Linked DNA regions of Homo sapiens. The protein of the gene in region 2 purifies or fractionates together with the protein of the main gene of each other region. This does not show direct contact. Each region holds a gene or a part of one and is shown on either strand. Other genes may lie near its edges.

Region 1 (3,748 bases), on a different chromosome or scaffold from region 2:
GTCATGGAGTGGCTCCAAAGCGGCTAGAGGCTAGGCTGTGGGCGGCTCTGGGGCATGGAGGAGGCAACATTGACCCTTCTCGCGCTGCAGAGAGACAAAAGGACCACCACCACGATTTTATTCTTAAATAAAGCTCAGTCTAAGGCCAGGTTAGGTGTACAGGTAGGTGAAAGGGGAGGAAGTGCAGATCCCGGGCACTTCCACTGTGGGTGAGTGGGCCAGCCCAGGGGAGGTGGGGCAGCTGAGAAAGGCAAGCAGGTACACAGGGCAGGAGGGGACGATGGAACCACTGGAGTCATTCTGCATGTGCTGGGAAGGTGCAGAAAGAACCTGGACCCCACGTTCTCTGTGGGTGGTGCCAAAAAGCTCAGCATGGTCCCGAGCCCCAAGAGTCCCCTGCCCGGACTCCCCCTGTCCAGCTCAGTGCAGCATCAAGCAGGCAGTGATGGCTGCCTGCTGCCATTAAGTCTCCCAACAAGATCTCAGGTTGAGGGGCGGCAAGGAGAGCCACATGCCTGCCACCCACGCTTTCCACACAGCCATGCTCAGGCCTCCGGGCACTGCAGGCCTGCAGGGGCCTCCCCGCCTGGGATCTGAGGTGCTCTCCAGGTGCGAGCTGGGCTCCTGAGCATTGCAGGTGCCGGCCCCCCGGGGCTTCAGGATACCGGGCTGCTGACTGGAGGAAAACGGGAGGAGGGCAGAGGTCTTCATGCTTCCTTCCCACGGCCAGGCTCAGTGCTGGTGCTCAGGCTCCGACTTCCCCAGGAATTCCCTAGACCACAGGACAATCAGGAGCCAATCATTTGAGCTCAGACCAAAGATCCTTCTCCACAGTCCTCACACTGCTATCTAAGGAAGCAGAGGCTGTGCAGAGAGGAGGCAGCCAAGAGCCCCATGAGGATGCGCTGTAGCCCAGAGCAGCACTCAGTGAGTTAGGCAGGGAACAAGCAGTGTGGTGCCAAGTCAAAGCCCAACACACAGGCATGGAGACAAGGTCTCTGATTCTTGACCCTCAACTTCAGAGCTATTCTCTGGTCTAAATTTTCTACACATATCTTCCTTTTATAATGGGGAAAATTATAACCGCAAAGCAAACCCATACTCTGAGCCCACTGCCCCCTTAGCAACCCAGGTACCTGTGCTAAAGGGACACAGTTTTGCCTCTGGAACTTCCAAAGGCAACTGGAGAAAAGCAGAAGTTTGCAGTAGAATTACTCACGGGATATACAGCACTGGGAGGCAATTCAGGCCACCAATTTCAGTCCCCTGCAGGGAGAAACTGGCACCTTGACCTACTTTTTGGAGCTGACTGGCACAACACAACAAAAAACTCTATCACCATTAGCAGCAGCCCCTCCGTGGGTCCAGTGCTTAGGGTCGAAGTACCACATGCCCTCCTCGGCTCAGAAGCCTTGTCCCATGCACAGGGAGGGTTAGCATCTTGCCCAAGGCCACACAGCCAGGCAGTGGGGTGGGGGCCTGTGTCCTCTGACAGGCAGGTAGGCGAGTCTGGGCAGCAACCTGCATAGGGCCCAGGGCAGTACAGAGGAGGCCGGGGGTTGGTCCATTCCACACACTGCCCTTGTCACTACTGCCAAGGCCTCACCCTCAGGCTTGGGCTCTGCACTCAGGCCCAGGTGGGTACTCATGGCTCTCTGGGCTGGCGCCCATGTCCTGCCAGTGCAGGGCAGTCAGGAGCACCACGTCCCTTCAAGAAGCAGCTGGGGACAAAGAGGCTTTTGAGGAGCTGTGTACGTCTTGAGAGGTGTGTGGAAGAGATCCGAGGCCTGCAAGTGGCTGGGGTGTCTGTGTCTGAGTGTTCCCAAACATGGCCACCTGTGAGCGTGTGTGCCCCCCCGTGTGGGTCTGTACATCCTTTACAACATGGAGGCGGCTCACCCTGCATGATCATGTGAACAGTCCTGGAGCAGGAGAGAGGCACTCCCTCAAACCCCTCTGCCAAGGAAATGGAAGGCTCCCAAATCACTGTGACTCTTGGCCCCACTGAGGCCCCCTGAGCAGCTTCAGCAGCTGCCACCTGCTGCACGTTAGGTGTGAGCCAGTGCTGCCCAGACGAAGCCCCTGGGTGGGAAGAGAATGTCTCACCTCAGTATCCGTGGCAGCTCAGGGCTCTTGTAAATGTATTTGTGCCTGTAGCCAAGGTCTGAATGAAAGGGCACAAACTGAACTTTGAAATCTCGGAAGCTTCGAGCTGGTGCGGCGATGCTATAGAGCTGGGGAGAGAGGGGTCAGAGCCTGAGGCAGTGGCCTGGCATGGGGGTCCCAGCCTGAGGAACACCAGCTTGGCAGCCTCCCCTTCAATAGAAACCAGTCCAGAGTCCCACATACACTGCTTGTTGCCACAGCCGGTCACGACCAGGAGGCCCGGGGGTGGGCTGGGAGGAGCCAGGCCCCAGGCTTGGCTCCTGGGCACACACCACTCAAGATACTGTCCTCACACCTTATAGACTACCCTTCCTCTGGGGAGTGGCTAGGTGGATGAGCCAGACCAGGTGCCTGGGAGGCTCTGATGGCAGGGATGGCACAGTCTTGGGGAGCTGGGACAAAAGGTATGTGCCTCAGGCTTAGCTAAGATGGGCTTGATGTACCCATCTCAGCCCCCTCCCCCTCTCATTTCGGCAAGGGTAGGTGGGCCTGAGCTGTGCGCTGCTGGGCGGCTCTGCATTCTGCCCCTGCCCTGTGTGGCTCCGTCATCTGTGTGCCTTATGGAGCCTGACTGCATGGGGGCTGTCAGAGCAGGAAGTGCTCCCAGCCCTGGGCTGAATCCGTGGACGAGGCCTGCACACACCCAACTAGTTTGCCCTGCCATTACCAAGACCCAGGCTGCCTTCTCTTACCCTACTCTGAGCCACAAATCCAATCCAACTTGCTGACAGTCAAAGCAAATTCAGCAAAAGCAAACACTGAGGCCCCACAGACAGCATGGTCTGGTTCTGGTATCAGCGCAATTCCAAAGGCAAGGAAACAGGCTAGAAGTTTCTCTATCAATTTTGACTGTGACCCCTGCAATGGGCTTGGGAGATCCTCATCAAGGGGTTCTTTGCCTTCAGCCCATAACTGATGAGCCCTTCCAGCTGAGTTCCCAGGTTGGCCTGGGCTCTGATAACATAGGCAGCCCACTCTGATAACCCCTGTGTGAGGACTGGGAACTATCTGCTTATTTTTCATATTCTTGGAGACAGCATCAGTGGGCCCCTGCCCCAACCTTTACACCAGACCTCCCATGTCCTTCCGAAGCAGCCTGGAGGTGACGCAGGGAGGATGAGGTGGCCTCCTGAGCCTGACGTGGCTGGTGCGCAGCCCGTGATGCAGCATGCAGGGGCTGCCTTCCCGCCTGCCCACTCCCAGCCTGGTCCACCCACACTGGCTGAGTGTGCAAGATGCCAGCTACACCAGAGGCAGAGGCCAGGACCCACCTTTCTGCCAAGCTGGAAGGGCACCACCGGGTCGTCCTCAGCGTGCAGGATGAGCAGGGGACAGGAGATGTGCTTCACGCTGTAGGAGGGAGAAGGGGCTAGACCAAGACCAGGGAAAGGGCAGAGTTGCCCAGACCCTCTGTCCATGGCAGGGATCTGGGTTCAGGGTGTGTTTTGGGAAACAGCCTGATTTCTGCTGGATTTCTTTTTACTAGACAACTGAAAGTTAACTCTTCATTATCTCTATGAACATCTATTACAGCTAGATGACAGGTGTCAATCACAGCTATATAACTGGCCCTCGGAATGTC
Region 2 (3,748 bases):
CGCTGAGCCAGACTCCAGGGTTGCCTGGGAACAGTCTCTCCCCAAGATCACCTGTAGGGAAATGAGTGTTCCCTGGAACAAGGAGGTGGGGGCAGTGTGGCCCCTTCCCCAACTGGGGGTGGACAGCTGTCTCCTGGGGTGGGTTGGTATTAAAGAGGAAAGCGATTTTTTGGATAATGTGTCTGGATCATCTTGTGGACCTGTTCCCCTCCCCCTTGCCAAGCATGAGGCCATTCTAGGATCGGAGGGGTCAGTGTCCTGCCTCTACCCCCACCCCATACCTTGTGGCTGCTGTGGCCTTAGCTTTGCCTTTTAGGGGCCTTCCTCCTCAGAGAGGCTGTCCTCTCTCCCATGTCCCTGGAGATGTCCTTCCCATGCAGCAGGGTCTGGCAGCCTCTGGGCTCTCCAGGTTTGTGGTGTTCTGGGGGTCCTGGTGAAGACCACACTGCACTCGAAGAAGTGGAGACAAGTTTATTGAGGAGCTTGACACCCCTCTTCTGCCCTAGCTTGAGAGAACAACTGCAGCATTTTTTTCTTTTTCTCTTCCCGATGACCATCTTTTGGGCTGGCGGGCCAGGCCCCTGGGTGTCTCCCATATCGCTGTCTTTAGTGAGACTGAGGATCTGGTATAAGGAAACAGATCAGCTGCAGCCAGTGAGGGCCCCTGCGTTGGGCCTGGGAGAGAGAAGGTCCTGTTCCTGCCTTTCCTGTGGCCCCAGGCACTCTCAGCTCTGAAGCCAGGCTATTGCTCGACACCGCAGGATGCCCAGGACTCCCTGGAACCAGGAGCAAAAGGGCGCAGTCCTTTCCCCGTCAGAGCCACCCACCAGCTTCCAGGCTTCCTGCATCTTCCAGGGGTCCAGCCTGTGGGACGTCAGCAGGAATTTCCCATAGCAGCACCGGTCTAGCGGGTAGTGGGTGGCACCAGCCAGCTTGACACACTGTGTTGGGGCGAGGCCTCCTCGTCGGGCACTTACCCCCACAAAGACATCCTCTAATGGGAGAAGGGGTGCCCGGCTGGCCACCTTGAGAATGAGCTGCACAGCAGACGCTGACAGCACATACCCCGTGCCTGAGGCATAGGGTGGAAAGGGGCCCCAGGTGTGAGGCCACTGCTCCTCTGATACGCGGTGCCTGCCCCCCGGTGTCCGAGAGGGGTTCACGCGCCAGTGCACCCGGCCCAAGTACAGAAGAGGCACTTCCTCGCTGTGCAAAACCTGGCCTCCTTCCTGCTCAGCCTCTCTCTGGGGTTCCGTGCTTCTCTCCCATTGCCCCCAACGGCCCCCTCGCAAGACCAGCTCTGATACCAGTTCAGGGACGTTGACATACACATCATCGTCCGTCTTGAGGACGTATCGGGCCATGGGGCAGTGTTTCTCAGCCCAGTTCAGCCCGCTGAGGGTCTTTAGGGTGAGGTTGCGGTAGGAGTCCTGGAAGGCGGCCTGCAAGATATCCCCCTGGGCTGCTGACTCCGAGGCCAGGTCACTCCCCTGGGAACCCCACACGGGGTGCTGTGCGTTCGGCTCTCCCAGCAAGAATAGCGTCTGTACCCTGAGCCCCCGGGCCTCGCGCAGCCCGCCCCACGAAGCCCGAATGGCGTTTCTCTGGTTCAGGTTCTCCGGAGCCGTGCACACCAGGATGAGCAGGAAGGGAGGGGCCCCGGGACCACTGCAAGCTTCCTGGTTGGGGATCAAGAGGCGGGGCAGGGCCAGGGGCGGCCCCGGTGAGGCGGGGGCTGGGAGCAGGGAGGCTAGTGAGAGGCTCAGCAGCTCCTCCCCCAACCCCGAAGGCCCGAAGAGGGTCCAGACGATCACCAGCAGCAAAGCGGCGAGAAGGAGGCGCCGGAAGAGCCTGAGCTGCATGGTGCGGCGTACTCCGAGGGGATCCGTAAGAGCGAAGGGCGGAGACTAGCTCCCCGGGCCTGGGTCACGGCCGGGGACTTAACCGACCACGCCCGGGATGCGGAGGTCTGAGCGCGCGACCGGGACCAGCGCACCCTGGGGGGCGGGGAGAGGCGGTGCAGCTGCGGACCGCGGTCGAGGCATGCTGCGGGGGTGGCTACCTTGTCGCCGCGGCCTCGCCGCCAGCAAGCTCCGCTCCATGGCTGGCCGACTGCGGCACTCACGGCCCCTCCCCCGCCTCGCCCCGGCGGCCGGTCTGCCGCCCGCTTCCGCGTTGCGCGCTCCCATCCCCGCCGGAAGCGGCGTCGGAGCAGCGCGGCAGGGCGCGGAAACCCGGGCGGGTGGAGTGGCACCAAACGGAGTGAGACCGGTCTGTCCAGCCGCTCCCCATCCCAACCCACCGACGTACTCCACCAGGGAGACCACACCCTTCATAACCAACGTCCGCGTTTTTGCCTTTGTTGCTTCGGTCACAGCCCGAAGGATTTTCCCTTATGACTAGATGACCCCTTAAAAGAAAACAAAAACAAAAACAAAAAAACCCAGAGTGACCAAGACCTGCAAACTCACCTTAACTGCAACTGGCTAGGCTCAGCTAACCCACTCCACAATGATGCTGCACACCAACCCCAGGGTGTTGGTCTCTAAACTGGTCTGGGTCAGCCCCTCAAGGCTGAACTGTTTTACCCTCACATTTCTCTTTACAGAGAGGGACATCACTAGCTACATATAGGGAGACTGGGGGGTCTGCAGCATCACCACTGCTAAAACTAATAGCACTGTGTGGGCAACTGAGTAGGGCAGCTCTAAATGGAAAAAGGACCCAGCACTTTAACATTCCCTATTAGAATGGACAGAAAGGACAGGAAGCCATAGGTATATAAACTATTTATTAACAGACAAGGCCTACAGACTTATTTCTTCTTGGACACACCCACGGTGCGGCCACGGCGGCCAGTGGTCTTGGTGTGCTGGCCTCGGACACGAAGGCTGCAGGTAAAAAGAGAAGAGTCACAGGTCATGCACAGCAGAAACAAAAGGTTGGGGAAAAAGAAGAGCGAGTAGGAGGAATGCTGAGTCGAGGTAGGCAGGGAGATGAGACCCCCCACTCACCCCCAGAAGTGACGCAGCCCTCTATGGGCCCGAATCTTCTTCAGTCGCTCCAGGTCTTCACGGAGCTTGTTGTCCAGACCATTGGCTAGGACCTGGATTCAGAGGAGGGGGCAAGGGATGTTTTATCCCCTGACCTCCTATGCCCAATTCTGTTAGGACCCTCCACCCTTCCTCTAATCCTGCCCTCATTTCAGTACACACCTGGCTGTATTTTCCATCCTTTACATCCTTCTGTCTGTTCAAGAACCAGTCTGGGATCTTGTACTGGCGTGGATTCTGCATAATGGTGATCACACGTTCCACCTGGCAGGCAGACCAAGGTCAGATCTAGATGGACCCCTTTCTGAGGCTGACCCCACCCCCAGCCCCCTTCCTTGTCCTCACCTCATCCTCAGTGAGTTCTCCCGCCCTCTTGGTGAGGTCAATGTCTGCTTTCCTCAACACCACATGAGCATATCTTCGGCCCACACCCTGAATGAAGTGAGGGGTTTCGGAATTAGTGTTGAATCTGATTTTTAAATTCCTTTATAGCCTCATTCAAAAAGCTCACAAAGGTAGGATCTGCAATAATCTATTTTGCAATCCCCTAGGTCACCCTTTCCTCACCCACCTTTCCAGATATAAACCGTTCGACAGAAGGTTAACTTTGGGCCGGTCGCAGTGGCTCACGCCTGTAATCCCAGCACTTTGGGAGGCCCAAGTGGGCAGATGACATTGAGGGCAGGAGTTCAAAA
Region 3 (3,333 bases), on a different chromosome or scaffold from region 2:
GGTTCAGAAGATTGATAAGATGACTGCTGAACTGAGCCCCTTCCTTTTCATTGCAGAAGTTCTCATTCACACTGGGGTGTTTAATTGACAACCGAAGAATGTCAAGTGCAGGAAAGACAATATCTATTAAAAAAAAAAAGTCATTAATGCTTATGAAAATAAAGAAAATTTCTTTTGACTATCGACTTTGAAGGATTTTATTTTCCCACTGCAAAACTAACCATTTTAGAAAATGTGAAAAATCATGTGTCTGCTTTAAAAAAAATGCATATATTTCTGAAACTTTTGTTAATTTTTCATATTTATATAAACTAGATTTATTGCTGTAAGATCATATTCGCTTTAAAAATAAGGTAACTCTCTCAAACAGCCTACACACTGTGAGTATTCAAAAATGAATGGAAAGAATGGGGTGCAGACTTTGCTTTTAAAAAATTCTGTAAGACCGAACAATTAAACAGGGAAAGTTCTTTTTTTTTTTTTTTTTTTTTTTGAGACAGTTTCACTCCTGTTGCCCAGGCTGGATTGCAATGGCATGATCTCGGCTCACTGCAACCTCCACCTCCCGGGTTCAAGCAATTCTCCTGTCTCAGCCTCCCAAGTAGCTGGAATTACAGGTGCACGTCACCACGCCCAGCTAATTTTTGTATTGTTAGTAGAGACGAGGTTTCATCATATTGGTCAGGCTGGTCTCAAACTCCTGACTTCAGGTGATCTACCCAAGTTGGTCTCCCAAAGTGCTGGGATTACAGGCATGAGCCACCGTGCCCAGCCGGAAAGTTCTTAAGAGAAGAATTCCAGTTAACAAGTGATAGGATGCTTATAGGTTGGTGGGAGCTTTATAATCAAGGGCCTGGGTAGATGCCATCTGAATGAATGCACAAAATAATCTTAGCATCACTAAAGGTGAGGAAATCCAACATTATGTGCTCCGTAATGTAAAAGTAGTATGCATCATCATTTATAAAGGATTTCACCTAAAAAAAAAACACCTACTGAACCAGAATCTAATTTTGCCACTAGCAATAAATACAGAGATGGAGGAACACATCAGCAAAATCCATAATATGGGACATTTTATTGAAAAAAAAAAAAAAAAGACTTTTTCTCCAATAAATCAGTGGCATAAAAAAAAATAACAGGCAAGGACTCTTTGAGAATTAAAAAAGACTTAACTGACATAATTGGAAAAAAAAAAACTTACAGTAAATATTTGTAGCCTAGGGTTAACAGGTCACTAAGAGTATCTTGGATGCCTGGCCAGGAATCCACAAATGCTCTGAAACAGTAAACAAACAGGTGCATGCCCGGGCGCGGTGGCTCACGCCTGTAATCCCAGGCTGAGGCGGGAGGATCACGAGGTCAGGAGATTGAGACCATCCTGGCTAACGTGGTGAAACCCCGTCTCTACTAAAAATACAAAAAATTAGCCGGGCATGGTGGCGGGTGCCTATAGTCCCAGCTACTAAGGAGGCTGAGGCAGGAGAACGGCGTGAACCCGGGAGGCGGAGCTTGCAGTGAGCTTGCAGTGAGCCGAGATCACGCCACTGCACTCCAGCCTGGGCGACAGAGCAAGACTCCATTTCAAAAACAAAAACAAAACAAAACAAAAAAACAAAGAAAACAAACAACAACAACAAAAAAACAAACTGGTGCATATATGGGGATCATATATTACCTTCAGATTCTCAAAAGGCATGTAACGGAAACAAGATCATCAATTCCAGTAGTGTAGTGAACCCTTTTCGTGAAGATTTTCCATAGTGATTTAGAACTACCGAAGTTAACTTTCATTTAATCCACAAATACCAGTAATATTGATAGAAATGAAGATAAAACTTCTTGCTTTCTGGTTACATTTTTGAAGAGTGTTTATTTACCTTCAGGACAGTTAATAGCTTTCCACAAAATCTGAAGTTGCTGGACTGTGGGTTTTTCTGAAGAACTATTACATATTAGAGACAGTATCTTCTCAAGAAGTATCAAGTCATCCTCAGTTAACTTCTTCTCTTCAGGTGCAGTTCCATTAAGTTCCTTCAGTTTACCTAGAACCCAAAACCAAACTTTCAAAATTCTCTAACTGTAATTGGCCAGATAATATATAAATGCCAAGACTTTCAATAAAAGTACTCTAGTGTACACCATGGGGAGTTAAGACTTTACTCAGCAATTATCAAACACCATAAAGTAAGGATAAGGCTTATGAGCTTTGTCTTTTTTTTTTTTTTTTTTGAGATGGAGTCCTGCTCAGTCGCCCAGGCTGGAGTGCAGTGGCGCCATCTTGGCTCACTGCAAGCTCGCCCCCCAGGTTCAAGCAATTCTCCTGCCTCAGCCTCCTGAGTAGCTGGGACTATAGGCGCCTGCCACCATGCCTGGCTAATTTTTTGTGTTTTTAGTAGAGACGGGGTTTCACCACATTAGCCAGGATGGTCTCAATCTCCTGACCTCGTGGTCCACCCTCCTTAGCCTCCCGAAGTGCTGTGATTACAGGTGTGAGCCACCACGCCTGGCCTTATTATTATTATTTTGAGATGGAGTCTCACTCTGTTGCCCAGGCTGGAGTGCAGTGGCATGATCTCGGCTCACTGCAACCTCCGCCATCAGGATTTTCAAGCGATTCTCCTGCCTCAGCCTCCCGAGTAGCTGGAACTACCAGCATGCACCACCACACCAGCTAATTTTTGTATTTTTAGTAGAGATGGGGTTTCACCATGTTGGCCAGGCTGACCAACATGGTGAAAAACTCCTGACCTCAAGTGACCCACCTGCCTTGAACTCCCAAAGTGCTGGCATTACAGGCATGAGCCACCACGTCCGGCCTCCATTTTGGATGACTTTCAAAGCAGTATCATGTGTAATATATATTCAAGTGTAAGTCAATAACCTAGTTTCTCCATGAGAAAATTTATAACAACTTTTTAGCCAATTTATGTCAAATTCTACAGCTGTCAATGAAATAGTCAAAGAGTTAAATGCCTACTGATAACATTTAATTTATGACTTAGTTCCATATGCATATTTGATGTCACATTATTTTAAAAATTTATTTAATGGACATACTGCCCTTTCTTCCCATGTTCTCATTTCATGAAACAATTTCCTTCAAATCCTTCGCATGTATCTTTAGTATCAGTATCCTTTGTATCATGACTTTGAGTTACTGTGTTTCTTTAAAAATCTTTATCTCAAGAATAAAAAAGTCCAAATTCCGATAATAAGGAAAATTATCCAAATTTACACCATTGAAATCAATTATAAATGGAAACTAGGGCCTGTTTCACTAATCTCAGGTATTAACAGCTTTAACTCTAATAAATAAAAATCAAGTTCATT

Evidence for each region.
Region 1: the proteins of B3GALT4 (region 2) and ABHD12 purify together in Homo sapiens (affinity purification with mass spectrometry; one large-scale study listed by BioGRID and IntAct). This does not show direct contact.
Region 3: the proteins of B3GALT4 (region 2) and PLAA purify together in Homo sapiens (affinity purification with mass spectrometry; one large-scale study listed by BioGRID and IntAct). This does not show direct contact.

The regions. Positions count from the first base shown.
Region 1 is NC_000020.11:25,300,113-25,303,860, forward strand, and holds the end of ABHD12 (lysophosphatidylserine lipase ABHD12), read right to left. Parts: intron 3,517-3,748; coding exon 3,438-3,516; coding exon of another isoform or gene 3,186-3,437; exon of another isoform or gene 2,235-3,185; coding exon 2,107-2,234; intron 1,267-2,106; coding exon of another isoform or gene 1,245-1,266; exon of another isoform or gene 1,220-1,244; intron 773-1,219; coding exon 733-772; 3' UTR 102-732; downstream 1-101.
Region 2 is NC_000006.12:33,275,534-33,279,281, reverse strand, and holds B3GALT4 (beta-1,3-galactosyltransferase 4 precursor), read right to left. Parts: upstream 2,160-3,748; 5' UTR 1,863-2,159; coding exon 726-1,862; 3' UTR 457-725; downstream 1-456. Other genes in the region: WDR46 (WD repeat-containing protein 46), read left to right, coding at 1-6; RPS18 (small ribosomal subunit protein uS13), read right to left, coding at 2,816-2,891, 3,015-3,106, 3,216-3,317, 3,399-3,485. UniProt on the Homo sapiens protein: Involved in GM1/GD1B/GA1 ganglioside biosynthesis.
Region 3 is NC_000009.12:26,905,954-26,909,286, forward strand, and holds part of PLAA (phospholipase A-2-activating protein), read right to left. Parts: intron 2,046-3,333; coding exon 1,881-2,045; intron 124-1,880; coding exon 1-123. UniProt on the Homo sapiens protein: Plays a role in protein ubiquitination, sorting and degradation through its association with VCP. Involved in ubiquitin-mediated membrane proteins trafficking to late endosomes in an ESCRT-dependent manner, and hence plays a role in synaptic vesicle recycling.